Linked DNA regions of Homo sapiens. The protein of the gene in region 3 purifies or fractionates together with the protein of the main gene of each other region. This does not show direct contact. Each region holds a gene or a part of one and is shown on either strand. Other genes may lie near its edges.

Region 1 (3,727 bases), on a different chromosome or scaffold from region 3:
AGTATTTCATACAGTTGCAAATTAATCTGATTTACTATTGGATTAATTTTTTCTTAAACAAGGACAGGGTCTCCCTCTGTCTCCCAGGCTGGAGTACGGTGGCACAATCGTAGTTCATGCAGCCTCCAATTCCTGGGCTGAAGTGATTCTCCCACCTCAGCCTCCTAAGTAGCTAGGACTACGGTGCATGCCACCATGCCTGGCTAATTTTTAATATTTTTTGTAGGGATGGGATTTCACTCTGTTACCCAGGCTGGTCTCGAACTCCTGGCATCAAGTGATCCTCCTTCCTGGATTCCCAAAGTGCTAGGATTACAGGCATGAGCTTGGGATTAATTCTTTTTTTTTTTTTGAGATGGAGTCTCGCTCTGTCACCTAGGCTGCAGTGCAGTGGTGCAATCTCGGCTCACTGCAAGCTTCACCTCCCGGGTTCACGCCATTCTCCTGCCTCAGCCTCCCGAGTAGCTGGGACTACAGGCGCCTGCCCCCATGCCTGGCTAATTTTTTGTATTTTTAGTAGAGATGGGATTTCACCGTGTTAGCCAGGATGGTCTCGATATCCTGACCTTGTGATCCGCCCGCCTTGTCCTACCAAAGTGCTGGGATTACAGGCATGAGCTGTCATGCCTGGCCGGGATTAATTCTTTATCCATGTTATCTGCATTATTTTTGATTTTCTGCTATATTAGGGAATATTGGTAAGACCCATTCCCTCTCTGGCTGTTCCTAAAGGAAGAGAATCTTAAAAGTTAGACAGGGCAGCATGGCTTATTGATCATGAGATAGATATATTTTAAAATTTTCCATAAATTTTGGTGATACCTTCTTTTATTTTTCTTTTCTATCTCTCAGGTGGACACAAATATATCTGTTATTTTACCTACTGTTCATGAGGTGGATATTTTCAGGTAAAGAATAAAAAATTTTATTAACTGACTTCCTTTTGCTTTGTGGTGGTGGTGTTAATTTATTTAAAAAATGAATATTATATAGGATGTGGAAAAAATTGGAAGAAAATAGTTATGTTTTACATGTTATAAATCAATGGTTCATCCCTGGGTACATGTTATAAGCTTTGACAATTAGGGAAATTTAAATATAGAATATGTATTATATGTAAAAATATTTTTGTTTGGTTTAGTGTGAGAATTATATTGTAATAATGTTAGAAAACATGCTTTTTTAAAAAAGAGATGCATTTTATTTGGGAGTGAAATGTCATGATGTTTGTGTTCTATTTTAAAATACTTCAGTAAGAAAAAATAGATGACGTGAAAAATGGCAAATATTAATCATTAAATCTGAGTGATATGTATATGATGTTTCTCACACTGTTGTTTTTACTTTTCTGTATGTTTGAAAAATGTCAACATGGAAAATGAAAAAACAAAAAAGAGATACTGTTAGCACTTAGAAAAGAAATAGAGGAAAAATAAAAAGTAATGTTTGTGCCTTTACCCAGAGCAGCTAAATCTTTGGATTGGTACCCAAGTTCTAGTTCCCCAGGTAGTTCTGATGTATAGGCCAGCTTGAAAAACCACTGCTATAAATGAGCAGTTACGAAATGCTCAAAAAGTCATGAAAGACTTAAAATGGATTTTTTTGGTGGGATCTTTTTTCTTTTATTTTTGAGACAGAGTCTCACTCTATTGCCTAGGCTGGAGTGCACTGCTGCAGTCTTGGCTCACAGCAGCCTCCACCTCCCAGGTTCAAGCGATTCTCCTGCCTCAGCCACCCAAGTAGCTGGGACTACAGGTGCACACCACCATGTCTGGCTACATTTTTGTATTTTTAGTAGAGATGGGGTTTCACCATGTTGTCCAGGCTGGTCTCGAACTCCTGACCTCAAGTGATCCACCTGCCTTGCCCTCCCAGAGTGCTGGGATTACAGGTGTGAGCCACTGCGCCTGGCTGACCTTTTTGTTTGTTTTTTATGACTTGTAAACTACATGGAATACTGCTTCAAAAGATTGGTTAGTTTAAAAAAAAAAAAGATTGGTTAGTTTTATATGTTGCTCTAGCACAGTACAGTCATCCTATTTCTAGGTATTTATTCAATAAAAATGAAAATGTGTCTACATGAAGACCTGTATGCAAATGTCTATATAGTAGCTTTATTCATAACAGTATAAAACTATACACAACCGAAGTATCCATCAACTGGTAAATGGACAAACAAAATGTAATACATGAATGCACATGGAATACTATTCAGCAGTTAAAAAAAAGAAGGAACAGTTGATACATGCAACAATGTGAAAGACTTCCAAAAGCATTATGCTAAGTGAAAGTTTCCAGATAATTTAAAGATACTGAATGATTCCATTTATATGATGTTCTGGAAAAGATAAAACTATAGGGACAGAAATCAGATCAGTGGTTACCTGGGGCTGGGGGAGGAAATCTACTACATAAGGGCTGCGGGCATTTCGTGAGGTGATGGAACTATTCTAGATCTTTGGTAAGGGTAAATTTTACTGCATATAAATTATAAATGTGACTTTTAAAACAAATTAATTTTCTTAAAAAGTACATGTTATGGCATTATTAGGATGAAAAGAGGGAGTGTCCCCAAAATGAATAAATATTACAGGCAAAATATACTAAGAAGAATGTGTACATTTCTCGTTTTGATACTTGACTCATTAAGGAATAATTTGCAGAATTGGCATAAATTAATATAGAGTTCAATTATTGGACATTTTTTCTTTTGAACTTCTGGGTATGAGTCTTACGCTTTATTGTTTGTTACTGATTATCTTAGCTTTTGTGGTAATCTTGCATATCCCATATCTGAAATGGTCAGAATCAGAAGTGTTTTGGATTTTGGACTTTTTTGCATTTGGGGATTTTTGCATATACATAATGAGATATCTTGGGGATGGGCCCAAGTTTAAACACAAGGGTCACTTATGCTTCATATACACCTTATACACATAGCCTGAACGTAATTTAAAAAAATATTTTTAATGATTTTGTGCATGCAACTAAATTTTGATTGCATTTTGACTTTGACTTACCTTGAGGTCATAAGTAGAATTTTCCACTTGTGGCATCATGTCAATGCTCAAAACCTTTTGGATTTGGGAACATTTTGTAATGTAGATTTTCACATTAGGGATGCTCAACCCTTAGTTAATTACCCCCATCACTAACACCTTTGATTAGCACATGTCTTGTCTCCTGGATATGAATTACATAATATTGTTTTAAGAGTGGGGCAAGTAAGTTTGTTGTTTTTAAATTCTTGTTTCCCGCCAGATGCAGTGGCTCACGCCTGTAATCCCAGCACTTTGGGAGGCCGAGGCGGGCGGATCATGAGGTCAGGATTTTGAGACCAGCCTGACCAACATGGTGAAACCCCGTCTCTACTAAAAATACAAAAACTAGCTGGGCATGGTGGCGGGCCGCCTGTAATCTCAGCTACTCAGGAGGCTGAGGCAGGAGAATTGCTTGAACCCAGGAGACGGAGGTTGCAGTGAGCTGAGATCGTGCCACTGCACTCCAGCCTGGGCAACAGAATGAGACTCCATCTCAAAAAAAAAAAAAAATTCTTGTTTTCCAAGAGATGAGAAAACCAAATTTTGAAAAATAATCTCACACAGTGATAGTATTATATCAAGCATTTAATATCTAATGATTAGATTAATGCTTTATTTGTGACTGTGCTTTTTGTTTCTGTAGAGCTTACATTTCACGTTTATTAGTGTGAATGAAAGTTTACATA
Region 2 (3,727 bases), on a different chromosome or scaffold from region 3:
ATTGGTCTGCCTCATATCAGCACTCTTGGGCTCTTTCTAACTCCCAGATATGGACCACTGCTCAAAACTTTCTGCGGATACAAACCCCAGAAACCATGAAAGAAAGCACTGAGAGGTTAAACTACGTAATATAAAAAATACTCCCATGGCAAAAAAAGAAAAAGAAAACGAGGTTGGAGAAAAATATTTGTGATTCATAGCACAAATGGCTAATATACTTAACTCTTAAAGAGCTTAAAAAAGTCATTCGCAAAAACCATCACCCAATAAATAGATAAGTGGGCAAAGGATGAGAACGAACAGTTCACAAGAAAGAGAAAAGATGCCAAATTTCACTCATGGGAGAAATGTAAACTGGACTGGAGTACTACTTTTCAACAATCAGTTTGAAAAAAGGTCAAATGGTTCATCGAGGCCACTTTGTCCTGACCAAGATTTGGGGAGTTGGGCACCCTCATGACTGGAGTGTCAATGGTTGAACTTCTATGGAGAGCAGCTTGGTGATAGCTAATGAAACGGCCCTTAACCCTTTAACCTTCACCTTTAACATACCTGACCCCAGCCATTTCCCTTCTAGAAATTGTTCTACAGACATATGTAATAACATATACAAAAGGTTATTCTTTCAGCAGTGTTTGTCATAGCGAGAGTGTAGAAACAACCTGCATATCCATGCTACAAAAAAGAGCCCATCCGCACTGTACAGCTGCAAAATGAAAGAGCCACAGGCGAGACATGCAATGCCCACAAAGCAAGGGGCAGAACAGCCATCACAGCACGGCAGGCTTATTTTGCATAACATAGAGAAAAAGGAGAATTCACATGCACCTTTGCTCGTGTGTACCTAATATTTTAAGAAGGACACCTGAGCAACTGGGTAGCCAGAAGGAGGGGCAGGAGAGAGACTTTTCACTGTTTACCCTCCTGCGGGTCTTGTATTTTCAACCATGTGACTACGGAACCTATTCACAAAGCATTAGTAAAATCTGTTACAAATCTAATTTGAATGTTTCCACGGGTGTATACATAAGTCAAAACTTCTCATGTAGTACACTTTTTTTTTTTTTTTTTTTGAGATGGAGTCTCACTCTGTCGCCCAGGCTGGAGTGCAGTGGCGCATCTTGGCTCACTGCAACCTCCGCCTCCCCGGTTCAAGCGATTCTCCTGCCTCAGCCTCCTGGGTAGCTGGGATTACAAGCACCTGCCACTATGCCCAGCTAATTTTTTGTATTTTTAGTAGAGATGGGGTTTTACCATGTTGGCCAGGCTGGTCTCGAACTCCTGACCTCATGATTTGCCTGCCTCGGCCTCCCAAAGTGCTGGGATTACAGGCGTGAGCCACCATGCCTGGCCATGTAGTACACTTTCAATACATACAGACACTTGACAGTGTCTACACAGGAATGAATCTAATAGAATATAACGTCCCAAGGAGGTGGGTGCGTTTGCTAAGCTCGGCTTTGCTGAAGCACCAGCATTGATTCATTCACTTCAACAAATTAATGCATTACTTAATCAGTTAACTATTTGAATTTTAATTAGTTGTGATTTAGCATTTGTTACTTATCTAGTTATCTAATGAGTTATTTATTTGCCCCTTATCTAATTAAATATCTGATGACTTGTTATTTATCACTTGTTATTTACCCAAAATAATTGGTTATTTTTTGCCATTTGTTATTTCTTGTCAATTTAATGAAATAGTTAAATCATTAAGACATTTGAGTGATATTATATTCAATTTACATTTACTTAATGTAAAACAACTGTATTGGGTAATTTAGATAATAATTCAATGATTGGGCAACACTTTAAGAATCTCCAAGCTCCTGTCTCCTTGCTGTCTCTCCTACTCTGACACAGCACGGGACGAATGCTAGGCATGAAATAAACATCTGCTGAATGGAAGATAAGTGAAATGCACGAGAACACGAATGAAAGCCTGAACCAGCGGACCCAGGAGCCCCCAAGGGCAAGGACTGGCTGGCTCTGCCCCTACTAGGGTCCCCACTACCACACTTGGTCTAACCTGGGGAATTCCTCACCCCCCAGGCCCCTCCCCCTCACACCTGGTCCTCCTCACACCCTGTCCCTTCCCCAACTCACCTGGTCCTTCTGGAGCCGCTGTCCCCTCCCCCGGCACACGATCCTCCTCGAACCCCATCCCCTGCCCCTCACACCTAGTCCTCCTTGCACCCCGTCACCTCCCCGTGTACCTGGTCCTCCTGGAGCCCCTGTCCCCTCCCCCTGGCACCTGATCCTCCTCGAACCCCATCCCCTCCCCACACACCTAGTCCTCCTGGAGCCCTTGTCCCCTCCCCCTTGCACCTGGTCCTCCTTGCACCCCGTCCCCTCCCCATGTACCTGGTACTCCTCATGCTGCTGCAGCAGCTGACAGCGGTGGCGGAGGAGCTCCTCCAGGCCCAGTTCCGGCTCCCGACACTCGCGCACACCCTGCGGAAAGTCTGTCACCAGGCTGTGAGGGACATGACAGCGGCCCTTAGGACCTCCCTCTAGAGGCCTCACTGACCCAACCCTATCGCCCGCCCCGTCCCCTGGCTCACTCAGGAGCCTGGCAAGTCGCTGCCCCACAATGGGCCTCCATTTCCCCATCTGCGGAATGGACCTCACGCTGCCCCTGGCCCAGGGTGGGTGCTGAGGGGCTCAGCACAGGGCCTGGTGCGTGTCAACTCTGGTGTGCTGTTGAGAGCTCCAGCATCATCTGATTAGACACTAATCCACTGGTGGGGGCGTGTACAGAAGCCTCTCTCCCTCCTGCAAGGCCTCTGTGCCAGCCCTACTGGTGAGGAAACTGAGGCTCCCTGACTCCTGCTCCTTTCTGGCCCCACACCCTTCCTCTCTACGGGAAGGTCCCAACTCCTGAGTCCCTACGGGCTGATTCCTGAGCCACCCCCACCTTGAGAGGACGGGGCCCCCACCCCAGGCCCCGTCCTCTCAAGGAGCCAAAGTACCTGCACAGGGCTCCAAGCACGTGCTCGTGGAAGGGGCTGTGCTCTGTCCGCACCAGGGCCACCAGCTGCTGGACCATCCCCATGGAGCACAGGGTCCCTGGGGGGAGGGCTGCAGGGGTCAGAGGGGCAGCCCCACCCATCTCCTATGCCCTCCCCGGGATGCCTGTTCCTCCCCTTCTCCCACACCTGCACCCACCCCAGGGCGTCTGCTCCCCACTCCTGCCCTCACTCAAGGGCTGCCACACCTTTGTGTTCAGGGTGGCCCACCAGCAGGTTCTGCAGCAGGAATGCTGATTTGACCTTGAGCTTCTGCACCTGCTGCTGCATGGCCCTCATCAACACAGAGAAGCCGTCCAGGCGGAGGAACTGCAGCAGCCCAGCCTCCTGCTCTCGGACCAGACCTGGGAGAGGGGGAAAGGTCCTGAGCTTGCAGTCACCACCACCACCACTGTCATCACAAGCACCATCACCAACATCATCACAACCACCATCACCAACATCATCATCACCACCATCACCACTATCTTCACCACCATCACAATCATCATCATCACCATTCTCATCCTCACCACCATCACCATCACCACCATCCTCACCACCACCACCATCACTATCACCATCACCACCACCACCATCACCACCACCATCATCACCATGACATCACCAACATCACCATCACTATCACCATCACTATCACCATCACCACCACATCACCATCACCGCCATCATCATCACTACCATTAACAATATAATTA
Region 3 (3,500 bases):
TTCAACCAAACTCAGGTGCAAAATATTAAAAAAAAAAAAAAGAAAGAAAGCATCTGTAGTGAACACATACAGGCTTTTCTCTTGTCATTATTCCCTAAACAATATAGTATAACAGATTGGGCCTGTGCTGCTGGGCTGACACCTGTGCTGCCGGCCTCCTCTGAAGGTGCATATCACTCTCCCAAGCTCAGGTCTGCGCATAACAACCCTGGGCTCACACCTCCCACATGTTGTGAATGCCTCCCAGCCCATCCGGGGAGGAGCTCACAGTCAGCAGGGAGTCCTTCCAGATCACCTGCGCGTCCCTCCTCTTCCTTCTTGCCTGGGACCATCAGTCTCCTCGCCCTCTGCTAGCTGACTCGCCATGAGGCTGTCACTTGGCTTTCCTCCTGGCATGTAAACTCCCCAGGGACAGGGCCTGTGGCTGGTCATCTTTGTCACCCTAACCCACACACAGCCCACAGAAGTATCCAGTAAACCATACTGATCAAATCCCAGACTGACTGGTAGATTGGGCCCCTCTGACATGCAAGAGGCAGCCCAAAAGGAGCAGGCGCTCAGCTGCCGCGTGGAACCCCATGCAGAGCCCCAGCTGCCTGGGAGGAGGGCCCAGTACCTTGATGGTTGCCAGACTCAGGAGGCTGCAGGATTTGGGAAGCAGGGAAGTGAGGTGATTCGTGTGGACGATCAGCACCTGTGTGGAGAGATGTGCGGCCATGCTGGGCTGAGGAAGAGCAGCAGGCAGGGCAGGCTAAGGGCGTGGGAGCCAGCCCAGCGCCGTGCCACGCCCCACCATCTTGCTCTCCCAGACACCACCACGGGGATGCGGGTCAGTATCATGAACTCTCCCAATGGGGAATCTAATGCCCTTCCTTAAAACCTGGATCTTCAAGGGTGAAAGAGACCTTAGAGGTCTACATCTTCCTTCCATCTGAGAAGGGATCCCCCTGCAGCCATCCTGATCATAACCTTCCCAGCACCAGCGTCTTCACGTGGAAAATAGAGAATAATAAAGTGCTTGCCTCCCAGGGCTGCCATGATGTTAAATAAAAGCTCATGCGCAAAACTTCCAGGGCTGGCAGAGGGGCCAGGGCTCAGTCCAGGTCATCTACTGCTATTTTTCCTTTTCTTTTTTTTTTTTTTTGAGACCAACTCTTGCTCTGTCGCCCAAGCTGGAGTGCAGTGGTGTGATCTCAGCTCACTGCAACCTCCGCCTCCCAGGTTCAAGCAATTCTCCTGTCTCGCCCTCCCGAGTAGCTGGGACTACAGGCGCATGCCACCACACCCAGCTGATTTTTTTTTTATTTTTGGTAGAGACCGGGTTTCACCATGGTAGCCAGGATGGTCTTGATCTCCTGACCTCGTGATCTGCCCACCTCGGCCTCCCGAAGTGCTGGGATTACAGGCATGAGCCACCGCACCCGGCCAATCTACTGCATTTTTCTTAGGCATTGACTGCGGCCCAACACTTCCAGCACAGACTGGGCGTGGTGGCTCACACCTGTAATCCCAGCACTTTGGCAGGCTAAGGCAGGTGGATCACTTGAGGTCAGGAGTTCGAGACCAGCCTGGCCAACATGGCAAAACCTCATCTCTAAAAATACAAAAATTAGTTGGGCATGGTGGTGGGCGCCTATAATCCCAGCTACTCAGGAGGCTGAGGCAGGAGAATTGCTTGAACCCAGGAGGCGGAGGTTTCAGTGAGCTGAGATTGCACCACTGCACTCCAGCCTGGGTGACAGAGCAGAGCGTCCGTCTTCAAAAAAAAAAAAAAACAAACAAAACTTCCAGCGCCAAGGAGCTCACTACTCTGTTGGCAGGGAACACTTTTTTTTTTTTTTTTTTTTGCATATTCTCATTTAGATACTTCACTTAGAGCGCTTCTACCCATCTGCATTCAAAGCTGCAATGCTCTGCTGAAAAATCATTCACTCCCCTCTGAATCTCCCCTGGGTGACCAGAATAAAAGGCGTGAGTTTCTATTATTACTAACACCGGGGTTCATAAGCCTTTACTACGTGGTAGGCATGTACACTCAGTATATTTCTATCTCTATCTAGCTATCTACCACTCATTTAATTCTCACAATACCTCAGGAAGGAGAACTATGAATGTCTTCATTTCACAGGGGAAGAAACTGAGAAGTAAGAGTTTAAGGAAGTTGCCCAAGTCATGAAGCCAGTGAGGGCAGAGTTAGAATGTGACACAGGAAGGTCCAACCCCAAAGCCTACTCTCCTATCTGTGAAAACACCTGCTGCAGGCCAAGAGCATAAGAAGCAGAGAGAAAGGAGGTGTCTACGCCGGGAAGACAGCTCCTCAAAGTCCCTTGTGGGTTCAAACAAGCAGACATGCAACAAGAAAGTCTCTGAAGATGAAGCTCCATCTTACCTTCTTCTGCAGAACTTTGCATGTTGCAAAAGCTCCAAATGGAATCTAAGATAAGATAAAGAAGAGTAAGTGTCTCCCCTCCTGCCAGTTTTTAGCTTGTTCTCTGAGTGGCATTCACGTGAGGAAGAGACAGGCAGGAGGTGAACAAGGGCAAAACGCCACAGCAGGTGGCAGTGCTGAGCCCAGGGGCAAGGCTGGCAAGCAGTGGTGTTGGGGATGTGGCCAGCCCTTCCCTCGGTCAGCTGGCAGGAGACTGCCCTGCCCCACCCACCCTGTCCCCATTGTGAACCCCTTCAGGGGCTGGAGAATGCCAGGCCCTTCCAGCAATGTAGGAGTCTATGGGTACATTTTCTACCTAGACTCCTTGACTCTTGGAGACTACGTTATATTGAGGCCAAAGGATCATCTTCAATTATTTTGGACGAGAACAAAATCTAAGGAAACATCTCGTGACTAGAGCTTCTGGCCTTTCTAAAGCCCCAGTCCACCTCTGTCTTTCCTAGGGACACAAGATCCAAGAAAACGGGACAGATCCAATTCACAGCCCAACACTATCCTCAGTTTACCTCTGAGAGCTCACATTTAGAGATGTCGAGAATGTCATCTGCCCCAGCTTCTTTTGCCTAAGGATAAAAAGAATTTTTAAAAAGTATTAAGACAAAACACCTTTGCAGAGTGGACAAGCCAGGCAAAGAACATAAATGTAAGCAGCTGCAAAGGACCATAGACACTATCTGGTTCCACTGGTCCATTTGGCAGGTGAACCAATGACCCCTGCTTTCCCAGAGCTTGAGGCCCAGAGGGATGAGGAACTGAAAAGCAATGACAGTGCGCTCAGTCTACAGGGGAGAAGCACCCTTGGCAGGGGGCCTCATCTGTTGGGTCTAAGTCAAATATTTCTTCTGTGGGTGGGGGAGGCAGATGGGAAGGAGCACGGCTTGTTGGGGGCAGTGCGGAGGCCTACTCCATGGGGACCGAGGAGGAGATGGGATAGAGTTAGAGGAAACCCACTTTCCCTCACCAAACACATCTGGTACTCCAGGCGTTTCCGAGCCTCCTCACTGGGTTTCCGCTTCCGGAAGAAGAGCGGCATCCTTCCCTTTTCCCAGAG

Evidence for each region.
Region 1: the proteins of LRSAM1 (region 3) and DENND6A fractionate together in Homo sapiens (co-fractionation; one large-scale study listed by BioGRID). This does not show direct contact.
Region 2: the proteins of LRSAM1 (region 3) and HSPBP1 fractionate together in Homo sapiens (co-fractionation; one large-scale study listed by BioGRID). This does not show direct contact.

Annotation. Positions count from the first base shown.
Region 1 is NC_000003.12:57,654,861-57,658,587, reverse strand, and holds part of DENND6A (protein DENND6A), read left to right. Parts: intron 1-852; coding exon 853-908; intron 909-2,092; exon of another isoform or gene 2,093-3,727.
Region 2 is NC_000019.10:55,262,914-55,266,640, forward strand, and holds part of HSPBP1 (hsp70-binding protein 1), read right to left. Parts: intron 3,374-3,727; coding exon 3,218-3,373; intron 3,070-3,217; coding exon 2,973-3,069; intron 2,477-2,972; coding exon 2,365-2,476; intron 1-2,364. UniProt on the Homo sapiens protein: Inhibits HSPA1A chaperone activity by changing the conformation of the ATP-binding domain of HSPA1A and interfering with ATP binding. Interferes with ubiquitination mediated by STUB1 and inhibits chaperone-assisted degradation of immature CFTR.
Region 3 is NC_000009.12:127,454,510-127,458,009, reverse strand, and holds part of LRSAM1 (E3 ubiquitin-protein ligase LRSAM1), read right to left. Parts: 5' UTR 3,483-3,500; coding exon 3,411-3,482; intron 3,013-3,410; coding exon 2,956-3,012; intron 2,435-2,955; coding exon 2,390-2,434; intron 695-2,389; coding exon 617-694; intron 1-616.